2 separate regions of the Homo sapiens genome follow, and region 2 is linked to region 1. Evidence: fine-mapped expression QTL. A gene starts in region 1. The other region holds a variant in brackets. All regions are shown on one strand. Distances are between the middles of the regions. Region 1 holds the start of TSC22D2 (TSC22 domain family member 2). Region 2 overlaps TSC22D2 (TSC22 domain family member 2).

Region 1 (2,922 bases):
AAGGAGAAATGGTCTTACAGATTACTTTAAGATTTTTCCTCTAAATGTACGATTTAAGAGTATCATAACGAGTAATCAAGAAGTTTATATGATAAGATAATGTAAAGGGATGAGCAGGCATATAATACTCATTTTTCCAAAAGCACCACCATCAACACTACCCATTATAACCACCTTAAACATCTGGTAAATCAATCCAAAATTAAATTAAGCTTTTATAAATTCATATTGGGTTTAACCATTTGATCTAACTTATTGATGGAAAACTGCCTCTAACAATTACTGAAATTACAGACTTAGAAATGAAACATTCCATTAGCTATCTCTGCCACAATAGCATAACGTTACATTTTGTTCCATTACTTTCGCCCAGCCCCTTAAGAAATAGGGATTTTATGTCGTCTTATTTCACATTCTGACTCCAGTCACTTGGGTTTGGAGGGCATGGTTTCCACTAAAGTTAAAAGACCTAGCTCTATAAATTACAACTAAAGACCTAAAAAATTCTCTGCAAATTTAATTCTCAAAACATCTTTTGGGATAAAAAGTATTTCTATTCTTCAAAGATTAGAGAACCGAGTTCAACGATTTACTGATTTAAGTTATCATTATGTGATTGCTAACGCTGCAGTAGATATGAAATCACGATTTCCATTAAGACTTAGATTTTACCTAAATGACGACTGCTTTAGTATGTCAAAGTTTAGGAGCCCATCCCCATTTTTTTAAACTGCTTAAAAGAATGGCCTTAGCATGCCAAAGTTTAAGAGCCCATCCCCATTTTTTTTTAACTGCTTAAAAGAATGGCCTTACCATTTTCTTTGGCCAGGAACTAACTACAAGATGATAAATTTGCCAGTACTTTCTTTTCATAGTTGTTCTTTGCATTGGAACAGGAAAGGGTGCTTTATCACTCGTTACGGTTGTTCATGGCCCAATCCAAATCATATAATACGCTGGCTGCTACTAACAGTTTTAGAATAAACAAAAAGAAGAACTATAATGCAGTAGGTTCTACATTTATAAAGCCCATGAGCTGATTTCGTGCCGAAAGTAAAACAGTCTCAAGAGTTTAAATGAATCCTGGAATCACAGCAAATTCAGGAAATTTAGGAATATGTTGGTAACCCTTAAGCTTTTTAAAAACTGACTACACCCTGGGCAAGTAACCACCCCCTGATGCCGTTGTGGGAGACAGAATTTCTGGCAGGAAGATAATTTTCTGACTCAATCTGGCTTGCCGTTCTTGTTTAATCATCCCCATTTCTCTGAACATTTTACTCCTCTGACTACAATGGTCAACATTTATTTTCAGAAGTTTTAAAGTGATTTAGTTCTTCCAGCCGCACCTCTTTTTATCCCATCTAAGTCTTCCCCAGCCCCCATTCCTATCGCCCTCGTTTCACTAAGATTTTGCTAAACATTAGACACAAGCACATGACCTCCAGTCTTCCACTGTCTCGGAACAAACCGACATAAAAACATCTGATTAGTTCCATTGTAAGCTTCCCTAGGCTTAGAATTTAAAATGGTCTTTAGCTCGTCAATGCTTAAAGAACCTACAACACAAAATTTAAATTTTAAAAATTTTAAATAAAGAAACCGCTCCCTTTTTTAACCTTTAGCCCCGCCCATTGCCCCCCACCCCAGGTTCCACGCGAAACTGCAGGAAACCGGAGGGGGCGGAGCGGTGACGTCACGACGCCGGTGCGTCACGGAACGGCGGCGGCTGCGGCGCTGGCGGTGGCTGCGGCAGCGGCGGCATTTTAGTCGGCAGCGGCGGCGGCAGCGGGGCTGCTGCTCCTCCCAGCATCCCTGGCGCGGCCATTTCAGCCCCATCTTGGCCCAGCGGAGGGAGCTGCAGCCGCCGCTTCAGCAGTTTGAATTTCAGTTTCTTCGGGGTTTAGGAATTGGGCGCACCGAGGAGGAGCCGGAGAAGCCACCACCGCTACCTCACACAGCCGGGGCGCCTCCGGTCCCGTGCCAGCGGTCTGCCGCCGCCGCCCCTCTCTGAGAGAAGCCGCGAGGGGAGGCCGAGACCGCCGTCGCCGCCCGCCCGCAGGGGTGGTTCCCCCTGTAAGGGGAGGACCGAGCCGGCTTTCCCCTCCCCCAGAGCGGGTTTCCGCCTGAGGCAGTCGACATGTCCCTGGGGCTGAGCTCCGGCTAGAGCCGGGGAGGGAGGGCCGCCTGCCCGCGCCACAGCCCCACCGCCCGCCCGCGGACCTTCAGCCAGCTCCGGCCCGCGGCTCCCGGCTGAATTAGGCATCTCCGACTCCGGACTCGCCGCTCCTTCCCTCAGTCAGAGAGCCCAGCGCTGACGCCGGCACCGGCCTGAGGAGCCCGAGCGGGGCAGCACCGCCCCTCACGCCGCCGCCACCGCCTCCTCCTCCTCCTCTTCGCCCTCCCACTCCCACCCCCAGCCAAGGCCTGCTGACCGCGCCGAGCGCCGAGCTGGACTGACCACGGCTGCCCGGAGACGAGAGAGGAAGCAGCCGGCCCGCCCCTGGGTTCGCGCTCTCGCCGCCTCTGAGGGAATTGAATTGAGGCGCCGCGGCTGCGAGAGCTAAAAAGGAAGGAGGAGCCGCCGCGGGACTGAGACGGGGGCAGAGCCGAAGAGACCGACACAGAGAAGGAAACGAGGAGGAGGATGTCTCACCGGGCGGCCAGCGCCTGGATCAGCCCGTGACTCTTAACAGCGGCGGGCCTCAGACCCCAGCGCAGACTCGGACTTTGTCTTTGGGGGCCCGTGCTCTGCCCTCCCCGGTTTCCGACAGGACCCAGAGGAGCCGGCGTGCCTCTCTGCCCTCCAGCCTTCTTCACCATGTCCAAGATGCCGGCCAAGAAGAAGAGCTGCTTCCAGATCACCAGTGTCACCACGGCCCAGGTGGCCACTAGCATCACCGAGGACACCGAGAGCTTGGA
Region 2 (2,922 bases), 57 kb after region 1:
TGATGTATACTTGCACCCCATTTACTCCTTTTCAATATTTCAGGATACATCTTTGTCCTGTATTTCTGTACCAGTTCACAGAATTTCTACAGCAAGATCCCTTTAAATGTATGGCTTTCCTTCATAGGTTGCAAGGATTACTTTATACAAGTGCTACTGTAACTATATCTTTTGTGGAGTACAATTGGTATGACATGCTGTGTTCATAGATGAAAATGCTAAGTGAGGCACTCTGAAGCAAGTTAAAGTTCACAGACATTCTTGCTTGCCCACCACCCCCCCGAACCCCGCCATGGAATCATCAAATAAGAAAAATAAGACAGATTTTCAGATTGGTGATGGCAAAGTAAGACGCTGGTATTTTGCACTGGCGCAGTCCATTTAGTTGTTGAATTTGTTCAGCATACCTGGATGGTGAGTGAGTTAGCTTTATTTTTCATTCTCAGCAGGGAAACTGATAGACTAGGCAGTTTGGGGAATTTTCCCATTGTCTACTGTCATGGGTCCATAGTATTTAAGTTTACAGACTACAACATTGTCCACAGAAGCCATATTTATCCCCTTGGAGGGAAGGGAAAGGTGTGCTAACTTAGATCATAAAAACAACTGAATTTTAAAACAAGGCAAATGCCACAGTTCAACTTCTCCATAAAAAAGTTAAGTTCATCTCTCCATTCTTTTGCATGCCTACAATATTTCCATATAACAACTGTAAAATACTCTTGCCTGCTGCAATCCAAATGTTATCCGGATCACAGTTCTTGCTGTCATTTCACAGGCATGCAATGTATCTATAGATAGGTCATATCATACCTGAGGAAGATCAGAGACAGCAAGGGAACATTTTCCCCACACTTGAGATGGAAATAATAACAGGTCAGTGGCTAATAAAAAGAAACATGTATGACTTTGTAAAACCCTAAAAGTGATGTTTTCAAGAAATTTAGGTTTCTTTTTTTTATTTTATAAAAAAAATGTTGACATGCAATTTAATTCTATTTCAATTTAGGTGCTGCAACCTGTACTGGATGTTTGGGGATAGAAAGATGAATGGGACATGATTTGTGTGCTCCAATGAGCTCAGTCCAGTGTAAGTGTAAAAGTTAAAGTGCCATATTGTTTATTCAGAGTATATGTTATAGTTTGTGAACCTTATATCATTTGTTAAATGAAAGGTTTTTATAAATCAACAGTAATATTGCCATCCCATGTAAAAATCCTTTGATATTGCCAGGAAACAACTTTAAATCACCAGAAAGCTTTAACATCAAATAATACTTTTAGAAGGAGGGGAAAAGCCTTCCACCTCGACATCGAGCCTATGAAGTATTCCCTAAAAAAGAGG[A/G]ACTAATCTGAGAAAAGTTTACACATTTTTAATACTCTAAGTTGTAGATAATGAAATTGATTTAAATCAAAGTTAACTAGAATAGGATTCATGTGTCATGAATTATATTGTCTATTGTCTCATAAGCAACAAGTGACACTTATTATCTTGGCTGACAAAATCAGCTACCATTTAATGAACCAAGTTAAGAATAACTCAGGTGACTGATACCAAAAATAAATCTCTAATACAGCTGAGAATCCAGAAACACAAATAATATGTTGAGTAAGTAATAAAAGTGACATTTCAAATTAGTAAGGAAAAAATGGATTATTCAACAAATAGTATGGGATAGCATAACAATTTAGAAGAAATATAAAGTTAGATCTTTCACAAAAATTAATTCTAGCTAGACTAGCAGTTAGTCTTCTACTTTTTGGTTACTCCCTTTTAGAAATTGGAAGCTATGAAGCTATATACCCTGTCCATTTGAAAATGCACATAAGCAAAGAACTTTACAAATAGGTTATAAAGAGAAGCTCAATCTCAGCAAAATAAGGGAAGTGCACATTAAAACACAAGAAACCATCTCAGATCCAACTAATATTTAGCGTGCATACAAATCAAAAGCTGGAAAGGGTGTGGAAAAACAGGAATACATTGCTAGTGAGCATACAAATTGGCACAGCCTCTTTTAAAGACAATTGTGTATCACCCATTAAATTTTAAAAGTCACATACCCTGTGACCTAACAATTCCAACTTTTAATGTCCTAAAGAAACATACATGTGTTCACAAGATAGCCTGTACAATGATGTCAATTGCACCTTTGCTTGTACAGTAGACCCCCTTATCTGCATTTTCACTTTTTGAGGTTTCAGTCATCCAAGGTCAACCACAATACAAAAATATTAAATGGAAAATTCCAGAAACGAACATAAGTTTTAAACTTCAAACCTTTCTGCATAGTATAATAAAAATCTCTCACTATCCCTCTCCATCCTGCCTGGGACAGGAATCATCCCTTTGTCCAGTGTATCCACAATGTATACACTCATTATATACCCATTTTATAATGCCCATTAGTCATTTCTATTATCAGATCATAAAAAAACATAGTACATAGAGGGTTTGGTATTATTCATGGTTTCAGGCATTCAGTGAGGGTCTTGGAAAATATCCTCCATGATGGGGGAGCTACTGTAATACTATGAAATTGGAAAAACCAAAATACTCATCAAGAGGATGGACTATGGTACACATGATGAAGTATTAAGTATCAATGAAAAAGAGAGAGTCCTACATGTCCGGCATGGAAGGATCTCCAGGAGACAATGTTAAAAGTTTGGGGGAAAAATTGAAAGACAATACCTGTAATACATATGATACTAGTGATGTTAAATCACATCACACACACACACACACACACACACACACACACACAAATACTGTATAGTGTACTTCTACAAGTACATATTTGTGTATTATATAGAGAGAAGGTCTGGAAGGATACTAACCAAACTGTCAACAGTAGTTTGGTAGCGTGCATTAGCTTTAACTGTAATGTTTGATGTTTTTGAATATGCATTTATGTATTG

Evidence for each region. PIP is the estimated chance that this variant, and not a neighbour inherited with it, causes the effect. A credible set is the group of variants that fine-mapping cannot tell apart.
Region 2: its variant is the best candidate, but not a certain one, in a credible set for the expression of TSC22D2 in whole blood (TOPMed, PIP 0.78).

The regions. Positions count from the first base shown.
Region 1 is chr3:150,406,530-150,409,451 of GRCh38, forward strand. It overlaps TSC22D2 (TSC22 domain family member 2), which reads left to right and starts at 1,769. Exons shown (of 3, transcript NM_001303264.2): 1 at 1,769-2,922. The coding sequence starts at 2,822. RefSeq lists a silencer at 1,860-2,459 and an enhancer at 2,830-2,879.
Region 2 is chr3:150,463,460-150,466,381 of GRCh38, forward strand. It overlaps TSC22D2 (TSC22 domain family member 2), which reads left to right. Exons shown (of 3, transcript NM_001303264.2): 3 at 1-2,922. Among named protein-coding and RNA genes, the nearest start is that of TSC22D2, 57 kb to the left of the region's middle. The variant A/G (reference allele first, on the strand shown) is at 1,346.